Linked DNA regions of Homo sapiens: region 2 is linked to region 1. The links come from fine-mapping of genetic effects on gene expression. Tissue or cell type: whole blood. Region 1 holds a variant in brackets; the other region holds the start of a gene. All regions are shown on one strand. Distances are from middle to middle.

Region 1 (5,149 bases):
TATGTTAATAACTTGATTTCATCATTTTGCTATGTATACATATATCAAAACATCATGTTGTACAGTGTAAATATATACAATTTTTCTTTGTCAGTAACACCTTAATGCTGGAGGGGATGGGAGAAGAAAATCTGTTTTCTATATTTCACAAGCACATCTATTGCACAATGTATACACATTGCCTCATTATGTGAGATTTATTGGCCCAGCCTAGGATTTGGCTTTTGACAACCAAAAAGGTTGCCCTTTGTGATACCAGTCTCAAAAATGTTAAGAACGTACCCCAAGCATCTCTTTAAAAAGGATTTTGGATTTATTGACCATGAATTTATCTACAATCTGTTTCTGCTTTCATTTGTATCATTTAGGGACTGATGATTTGTATGTTTTCCACTTGTATTTACATAGCATTCCTTTTTTCCTCTTTAACTCAGGGGTTACACACTCTGAATGTCTAAAATGATGAGTCAGTGAAATGGTTTGTGTGTAAGGATTCATAGTAAGAGAGTGGGTGTCCCATCTACAGGGAGCAGCCATGCTCAACTTGAGCCTGAGATGAGTGCGGCTCATTGTGGCCAAGATATTTTGATTTATGGGTGGGTGCGGTGGCTCACATGCCTGTAATCCCAGCACTTTGGGAGGCTGAGGTGGGCTGATCACCTGAGGTCAGGAGTTTGAGACCAGCCTGGCCAACATGGTGCAACCCCGTCTCTACTAAAAATACAAAAATTAGCTGGGCGTGGTGGCGCACATCTGTAATCCCAGCTACTTGGGAGGCTGAGGCAGGAGAATCACTTGAACCTGGGAGGCGGAGGTTGCAGTGAGCTGAGATCACGCCATTGCACTCCAGCCTGGGCAACAGAGCAAGACTCCATCTCAAAAAACAAACAAACAAAAAAAATTCTGACTTTTCCCTAGAATCCTCAAGTCTGAATTTTCAAACATTATGAATTCAATCAAAAATTTTAAAAGACACTGTGCAGAACAAATAGGTGCCTCGTGGCTTGCCAGTTTCTTTCTTTAATATACCTCTTTTACATTTCAAAGTGTCCTTTCTAGTTTTCTGGGATTTAGTATATGAGTTCACCGTCTTCTGATTCTCCTCCCCCAATTGCATGACAACTTTTATTATTCTTTCAGCTTTCCTCTTAACACACTACAGATTATTTGTCATTATTTTATGGTTATTATAAAGAAATAGTTCCATATACTACTTTATTTACCTTGACCCAAGGCCCACTAATGTATAATAAGTAAAACTGTAAAATCGGTCCTTTCATCTCCTGTTGTTATCAGTTGTTCTTGAGGGTGAGTGTCAATTTCATGGTTGGAGGCCAACTCTTCTTCCCTTCTCTCTGCAGCCGTCATTTCACCAAGCTGATAATGTTCGGGGAACCCGCCATCACGGGCTGGTGGAGAGGCCATCCAGGAACCGCTTCCACCCCCTCCACCGAAGGTCTGGGGACAAGCCAGGGCGACAAATATCCTTTTTTACTCTTCAAAGGGAGTGTGCATTCTGAAATGTTTGAAAAGTTTTCAGGATTTATCTTCCCTGCAATTCTCCTTTGGCCTCAGAATCTTCATTTATCTGATGAAAGGAGGCAATACAAATAAATGAGTTGGAAACTAGAAACATCTCTGCAGTCAACATTTGGAAACATCATTGTAGGTGTTTATGAAAGCATCAATAAAGTTCAGTTTAATGAAATAACAACAAAAACAACCTGTAATTCGGTCCCATTGCAGGGTGTTCTGAGCATTTTCTCCAGAAATTGGCCACGTTAGAGTTAAACCTGACTTTGAATCAGGTTAGAGAGCCTTAGTCTCTTTAGCAAAAATGGACATAGAGATATGTGATTTATTTGTACTTCTTTTGATCTGCTGACCTGCTTTTGGAACTTACAGACAAAATTTCATATTATTTTCTATTTGTGATGTTTCAAACTCAGTAAGTGATAACTAAAATAAACCTAGAATATAGGAAAATCTCATGCAGTGATGTACAGTCACACCAAACTCTGCTGTTAAGTAGAAATAAAGGAAAGGAAATGGTGAATTCACCTGACAGTTTCATTTAATCAGTCCTGTTTACAGGGCGGCAGTGGTGGGTGCAGCTGTGTGACCAGCATTGTGCCGAAGGCTTTGGGGAACAGAACTGAGCTGGATTTTTTGGGAGAGGACACAGAAGTGTGCCAGGAGGGCCCGTGCTCTCACTTCATTCTTCTCAGTACTCGGGCGCAGGGGTGGAGGAAGGAGAAGAAAGGCGGGGTGGGTCTCGCTGCGGAGAGCTGAATTCCTGGCAGTGATGGTAGAGTTGGCTTCAC[A/G]AGCCTAGAAACCAGGAAGTGGGGGCAGGGCACTCATGTTTACTGAGCACCTACCCATGCCAGGCGCTGTGCTGGGTAATTTATGTGTCACTTAGTCCTCAAAAACTCACTGAGTCGTTAATTTTTTTAACCCTCATTTTCTGATGAGGAAACTGAGTGTGTGGTGAAGTAACCCAGGATTCAGACCAGGCCCCGCTGATGGCCCAGCCTGTGCTCTCCCCTCCCTATGCCACCTGCGACCATTCGCAGTGATGAGGACCTTGTACAAGGGAGCCAGGAGTTGTGGGGGCACTCTAGGGAAACCCCAACTTTTCTTGCCTTCAAGCTTCTTGCAGTTTTTAGTCTATTTGGAGGCAAGGATAATGACCCCAGGGAATGTTTTTCTCTCCCCTTTCTCCCGCCCCCAGGAACACACCACATTTGGTCCACAGAAGGACTGACTTCTGATTTTGTATATTATGTGGCTGTTATCAAGGAAAGTAAAGATGATAAATGATCTTGAGAATCTATTCTGGAATGTGTGATAACTTTGACATTGAATGAAAAAGGCAAAAGGAAATGGAGGCAATTCATCAGCAAATTTGTACATGTCAGGATGGAGTGGTACATCAAACCGTTGTCCAAATTGCCAAGAATATTCAGGCAAAAGACTTGGAGTGTTTCTTTGATTGATTTAACAATGTATTTTTTTTGGCTGGGCATGGTGGCTCACGCCTGTAATCCCAGCACTTTGGGAGGCCGAGGTGGGCAGATCACGAGGTCAGGAGATTGAGACCATCCTGGCTAACGTGGTGAAACCCCGTCTCTACTAAAATTACAAAAAATTAGCCAGGCTCGGTGGTGGGCACCTATAGTCCCAGGCTGAGGCAGGAGAATGGTGTGAACCCGGGAGGTGGAGCTTGCGGTGAACCGAGATCGCGCCACTGCACTCCAGCCTGGGCAACAGAGCGAGACTCCGTCTCAAAAAAAAAAAAAAAAAACCAATGTATATTTTTTCAGTTCTCAGTTCCCTCTTTTTCCTGTCAGTGCTCTCATTTCTATATATTAGATTAAACATTATGCTATATATACGTGTGTGTATGTATATGTGGCTATCTCAGATACTTTTGAAGTACGGTCTAAATGTATAAGCATGCATATAGTTTTACTAACCAAAATAGAGAAGGGAATTGAAGAAAAAAGAGGAGAATGTTTATTCACTTATAAAAATTATTTGTTAAGTATGTGCTAGTGGTCAGACACCGTTTTAGACATTTTAATTCACTGTAACAGTAAACAGCATGGTCCCTGACCTCAAGTTGCCCAGGGTTCAGTGGGAGAGGCTACTCAGCAAACAAGCAGCCACGGCAGGTATGGCGTCTGCAGGGAGGCAGCTCAGGGGCTGTGGGAGCACGTCGGAGGTGCAGCTTGAACTAGTCTGGGGAAACGAAGAAGGCATCCTGGGGGAACATCTGAGGCTTGAAGGATAAGAAGTAAGAGGATAAAGTGTTCATTCAGCAGATCTTTACAGAGCCCCGTCTCTGTGCCAGGCACTGTTCTAAGCACTGGGGACCCAGTGATGAATAAGGGAGGCATACTTCCTGCTTTCTTGAGTTCACAGTCCTGTGGGAGATGACAGCAAACAGGCAATAAGAAAGGAAAATGGTTTTAGATGGTAATGAGTGAGATTTAAGAGAGTAAAGCAGTTGGGAGGTATGTTCCAGGCAGAGGGAAGAGAATGTGGTGCAAAGTCCTACCCAGAAGGGGAGATGACTTCTTGTGTTCAGGGGACCCTATCTCTTATGATAGGGTATAATCTGGCACTGTATGGATCAACTTGAGAGCATAAGCAAAGCTAGTCAACTCCTAAAGGAAGGAGAAACAAAAACCAAGTTAATATGCAGAGAAATTAAAGTTATTAGACAGTATGAGTCAGATTCACTGATCATGAGCCATGTCTCTGTGGTCTCCTAAGCTCCTAAATTGGGTTCCTGGGACTGGACATCGGTTGATGCAAAGAAAGTTCTTTAGCCCAGTCTCTTTTGAGGAATCAAGGGTCCGTGAAATGGGATGATTTTATTTTGGTGTTAATCTATTCCACTTGGAGGAGGAGGGCTGTGATTCCGTCTTTGCTTTCACGACCTGCATTCTGTTGGTTGTGAAATAATCTGCTTAAAATTGTGGCCTTGAACATTTGTCTATGACTTTTTAAATGAAGTTTCTTCATTTGAAAGTATAAAACACTAGTTTGAATCTTTGTTAGAACAAAAGGAAAAAATCAGAATTATTATAGCTGTTTCTTGGCTTGGGTGTTATTTAAGACACACTGGCTTAGACAAGGGTTTTAAGGGTTCACTCCTATGATAGGGTGATCTCAAATAAAACGAACATTGTTTAACAAATACTCTGGCCTCCTCTCAGAGTGGGCAGCCACAGCACGCAGAGCTCTGCCACAGGAGATTCCTTCTGGAGTGGGCTTTGCCCTTGGCATGGGTGGCCACACAAGACCAAGGCACAGCTGCAGCTGGGCCCTGGCCTAGCCCCACACAGGCGGAGGAGAGGCACTGCCAGGGCTTGCTCCTGGCTGGGGGCCTGGGCTCGGGCACTTGGAAGAGAAGCTCTTCTGCCCTTCTGCAGATGTGCAGTCTGTAGCAGCCCTTCTTACTCTCACTCATCAAGGTTGGCAGACGTGCCGTGTCCCAAACACCATTGCTAAACTTCTGAACTATTAACATAAATTTATAGCAAATAAAATATTTTCTCAGCCTTGTGGATGACACGCTCAGAAGGAAACACGAAATGCCTTCCTTGAAAGGAAGTCAAGAGTTCACCAGCGTGAAGGGTCG
Region 2 (5,149 bases), 65 kb before region 1:
TTTTTTTTTTTTTTTTTGAGACGGAGTCTCGCTTCGTCGCCCAGGCTGGAGTGCAGTCGGGTGATCTTGGCTCACAGCAACCTCTGCTCCTGGGTTCAAGCAATTCTCCTGTCTCAGCCTCCTGAGTAGCTGGGACTATAGGCGCCTGCCACCACGCCCTGCTAATTTTTATATTTTTAGTAGAGACCGGGTTTCACCTTGTTGGTCAGACTGGTCTCAAACTCCTGACCTCAGGTGATCCACCCACACCTCGGCCTCCCAAAGTGCTGGGATTACAGGTGTGAGCCACTGAGCCTGGCCTTTTTTTTTTTTTTTTTTTTTTTTTTTGAGACGGAGTCTCCCTCTGTGGCCCAGGCTGGAGTGCAGTGGTGTGATCTTGGCTGACTGCAACCTCCCCCTCCTGGATTTAAGCAATTCTCCTGCCTCAGCCTCCTGAGTAGCTGGGACTACAGGCACATGCCACCACACCTGGCTAATTTTTGTATTTTTAGTAGAGACAGGGTTTCACCATATTGGTCAGGGTGGTCTCAAACTCCTGACCTCAGGCGATCTGCCCGCCTTGGCCTCCCAAAATGCTGGGATTACAGGCGTGAGCCACTGCACCTGGCCGATGCTTGATATTTCTGCAGTGGCTTCTCATCATGATGATACCTGTATGGTTCAAGAGCTGGTAAGTGTAGAGACAGCTTTCCAATTTAGTAGATGGCTTCCTGATTTCAAAAGAGGCAGTGTCTCCTTTGGTGGCTCAGTATTGCAGCATAGCTCTCAAAGTCATTCCTCAAAGTTCAACCTGGAGTCGGTTGCTTCAGCCCTCCAAACAAGTCTGGAAGTCATTTTATACCCTGTAATATATTCTTTTGTACTTAAACCATCTAGAATGGTTCTGTTCTCTGAAACTTGACCCAAACAATGTAACAGAAAAGCAGAAATAAAATGTAAAGAAAAATGCTAGGCGCGGTGGCTCACGCCTGCAATCCCAGCATTTTGGGAAGCCGAGACAGGTGGATCACCTGTGATCAGCAGTTTGAGACCAGCCTGACCAACATGGTGAAACCTCGTCTCTACAAAAAATACAAAAAATTAGCCTGCGTGGTGGCGTGTACCTGTAATCCCAGCTACTCAGGAGGCTGAGGCAGGAGAATAGCTTGAACCCAGGAGGCAGAGATTGCAGTGAGCCGAGATTGCACCACTGCACTCCAGCCTGGGCGACAGAGCGCGACTCTGTCTTAAAAAAAAAAAAAAAAACTAGCCGGGCATGGTGGCGCAAGCCTGTAATCCCAGTTACTCGGGAGGCTGAGGCACAAGAATCACTTGAACTCAAGAGGCAGAGTTTGCAGTGAGCTGAGATCAGGCCACTGCACTCCAGCCTGGGTAACAGAGCAAGACTCCGTCTCAAAAACAAACCAACAACAAAAAAAAAGCATGGTAAATAACACAAAATACAACAGAAAAAAAAATCCAATTATAATTAATAAAAATAGCTAAATTCTAGCTAACAGAGATATATTTTCAGAATACATTTTCTAAAAAGTCCAGTTATAGGCTATGTCTGAGAGACAGGTGAAAAACATAATGGAATATTATCATATAAATGAATTGACACAAATATATCTCGAAAACATAATGGAGAATGAAAAAAGATGCAAAATGATTATTCAGTATGGTGTCATTTTTGTAAAGTTTAAAAACAAAATTAGGTATTCCATATAGCATTGCTGGATCTCTACATCATATGTAATAAAAGTATAAAAACACAAACTGGAATGATATGTACCAACTTGAGCACGGTGACTATCTGTGGGGCGGAAGAAGAAATGAGAGTGGGGCCGTCGTTATGACTAATTTTGTATGTCTTTAATAAATCCCAAGTACATGCAGCAAAATGTATTGATGTCTGTTTAATCTTGATAGTGGGGGGCGTGGGTAGTATTAATATTATTTTCCGTACTCTTCCGTAGGCCTCTAATATTTCCCTCTTTACAGAACACTGACACACGCTCAGGGCTCCCCGGGACATCTTTGTGCACATCAACATTTATGCTGAGAGTAGCTTCTGGACTCCAAAGAGGAAACTCCCCGGGCACTGTGGCCCACGCCTGTTATCCCAGCACTTTGGGAGGCTGAGGTGGGCAGATCGCTTGAGCCCAGGCGTTCGAGACCAGCCTGGGCAAAATAGCGAGACCCACCCCCGCCCCCCATTGCTACAAAAACATTTACAAACTAGCCGGGCGTGGTGACCCCCGCCTGTGGTCCCAGCTGGTCGGGAGGCTGAGGTGGGAGGATCTTTTGAGCCCGGGAGGTCAAGGCCGCGGTGAGTCGAGATCGCACCACTACACTCCAGACCGGGCGACAGAGAAAGACATCCATTCACTCCCCCAAAAGAAGGGGAAATTCGCTGAGGCTGAGCGCTGGTTTCCCAAGGTGGGGCTGGCACCTGCTGAAGCTGCCACAGGAGTGGAGAGGCCGTAGGGAGACTTGGAAAGAACCTGGAAAGGGGGCCGGGGCTATGGAGCCAAGGCTGCAGCAGGGCTGGATGGTGTTTGTAGTTTGTGCAGAATAGGAGGCAGTTTTTAAAGCCGAGATACAGCTCTGGTTGACTGGAGCGGGGAGGGGTGGGTGTGAGAGGTCAGGAAACCAGCGGCTGGAGGCCGGGGGCCTGGAGCGGCAGGGCTGGCGGGCAGACGTTAGGCCCCAGGCAAAATGGGCGCACCCCCTGCGGGGGCCCGAGGTGACCTGCTCGAGGTCCGGTCGCCCAGGTTCCACCTGGAGAAGAAAATCTTCGTAATTTGGCTGGGGGAGGGGGGATGCGGGCACAGGCTGTGTTCTCCACGTCGCGTAGACGCAGAGGCCATCCCTGGGTCGGAGAGTCTCCGTGGAGTGGCACCCCAGCGTTCCCCGTACGCCGGGGCCACTTTGTCGGGCTGACGGGGGTCCCTCCAGGTGGCCGCCGGCGGCGGGTCCCGAGCCAGACCGGGAAGCGGGGAGCAGCCCTCAGCCCGCGAGCGTGGGGCCGGGGCAGACTGGAGGCCGGGCGGGCCCCGCCGAGGGTGGGGCGGGGCCGGGCGCACGGGGGCGGACCTCGGCGCGCTCCCGGCCGCTCGCTGGCTCCGGGGCCGCGGCGGCTCCTCTGCCGGGTCGCGCCGGACGACTGGCTTCGGGCGGCGGCCCCGGCGGCCTGTGGACGGACGGGTGGGCCGAGGTACAGGCCCCACGGCCGCCGTCTCCCGCTTCTGCCCGCGCAGAGTCCGCGCCATGGCCGCCTCGCCGGGCTCGGGCAGCGCCAACCCGCGGAAGTTCAGTGAGAAGATCGCGCTGCACACGCAGAGACAGGCCGAGGAGACGCGGGCCTTCGAGCAGCTCATGACCGACCTCACCCTGTCGCGGGTGAGGGCCCGGGCCGGCGCGGGCGGGGGCGGCCACGGCCGCGGGCGGGACCCGCGCGGCGGGTGAGAGGTTGCGGGGCCAAGGCGATGGCGGGGCCGGGCGGGGGCCGCGCCCGGGAACCGGCGGCTGGGAGGGGGACCGGAGCGGCCGCGGCCTCGGCGTTTCCCCGCCTGGCGACACCCGCTAGCCGTTCGCGATCCCGGGCTGAGGTGGGAGGGTCGCCCGGCCCCGTGTGCGGGAAGATGGGCAGGGGTGAAGCCCGTGGAGGCGGGCGGCCGTGCGAGGGCGGCCTGAGGGGGAGGAGGACGAGGAGCCCCGAGAGGAAATCGCAAACAGCTCGGAGGCCGGCCGGGTGGCGCGGCGCGGCTTCTGGTCGCTCCGAACATCCCCCACCATCGAGCCCTGCTGTTCTGCCGGCGTGGAAGGCCGCGGGCACCCCAGGGTCCCACGCGCTCGTGGGGGGAGCTCTGTGCACAAGTCCATCCAGGGCCCGGCCCTGGGGTGGCTCGGGTTGTTGGAACCACGACGGGATTCCGTGTCGAGTGTGAGGCTCTGCTCCTTTTACTCCTTGGAGGTGCTTTATCGGGTCCAGTTTACTTTGTTCGGCCCGGGATATTTAGTGAGAACTGACAAGCGTCGCTGGTGACTGGAGAGGGACCTGGAGGAATGAGTAAGGCGCGAGCCGGGACAAACACCTGGAGAGGTTAGGTAACCGCTGAGTGAGGCAGTGGAGGATGGAGAGCCAACCGGAGTGTCCGCGCAGGGTTGCAGAGAAGGGGGGTCAGCAGGAGTGGGGCTGGCCTTGAGGATCCTGAATGCTGACCTTGGAGGACCATCGGGAGGATGGGGGAGGATCTGCAGATTCTGGGGGACTGAGGCGGGGGAGACAGTTTGAAGGAGAGCTGAGAGCAGAGTTGCAAACCAGCTGAGTTGCAGACACATTATTTTTTGGCCAGCGCAGTGTTTGGGAAAAATTATTGAATCTGTTGCCAGAATTTTTAAATTGGAAGACTTCCACACAAAATCCAAATTTCCGTATTATTTATTTATTATTATTTATATATGTTAAAAATTGGGAGACCTGGTAACACTAATTCTGAATTCCTACATGACAGCTACCGACCTGCTGGAGCTGGGTGATGATGAAAGGGAGCTGAGCTGAGCTCCCTTTCAAATGGAGTAAGAACTCTAGTTTGCCACCGTCCACTCTCTGTCACAGTCCCCCAAGGGGAGATTAGGTGACAGTTGCCATTTATACTCATGATGGTGTTTTCTTTCAGTGAAGTTAAGGAAAAAGTGAAATATTTCCTGTACTTACATTTCTGTTCACATTGAGAAAAAATATATATATAGAGAGAAAGAAGCTGAAGATTTCAAGAAAATGTTTTCTTATACCCTATCAGCTTCACTCATTTTTTACCTGCCTGGCATCCACTGGCATTTACATCTGTGACCTTGGTTAGATTCAGAGATGAACTCGATAAGCTCAGAGCACGTTGAAAAGAATGGGTGGGTGAAAGCTGAGGATTAGTGTTGGGGCCTGTGTTGTTATGTGTTTTTAAATACATACTGTACATTGTTTATGTACAAATACATGCACTGTATATGTCTGTATACCTATGGCGGATCCAATCTTTCACCCAATTCATGAATCTTCTTTAAAATATCCCTGACAGGTGAGGCCATGAGTAATGTACAGACTCTCTTTTAAAAGCAAAAATTTTTCACAGATCCTCACTGTTTACTTACTTTCAAGTAAAAAAAA

Evidence for each region. PIP is the estimated chance that this variant, and not a neighbour inherited with it, causes the effect.
Region 2: CRTC3 starts here. The variant in region 1 is fine-mapped to the expression of CRTC3 in whole blood (INTERVAL, PIP 0.97).

The regions. Positions count from the first base shown.
Region 1 is chr15:90,592,275-90,597,423 of GRCh38, forward strand. CRTC3 (CREB regulated transcription coactivator 3) reads left to right here. Exons shown (of 15, transcript NM_022769.5): 3 at 1,362-1,481. It overlaps LOC124903555 (a long non-coding RNA gene), which reads right to left and starts at 3,704. Exons shown (of 2, transcript XR_007064758.1): 1 at 3,617-3,704; 2 at 1,086-1,588. RefSeq lists enhancers at 1,790-2,290, 3,686-3,755. The variant A/G (reference allele first, on the strand shown) is at 2,325.
Region 2 is chr15:90,526,820-90,531,968 of GRCh38, forward strand. CRTC3 (CREB regulated transcription coactivator 3) reads left to right here and starts at 3,104. Exons shown (of 15, transcript NM_022769.5): 1 at 3,104-3,384. The coding sequence starts at 3,253. RefSeq lists silencers at 2,558-2,607, 2,708-3,457, 3,478-3,657 and an enhancer at 4,048-4,207.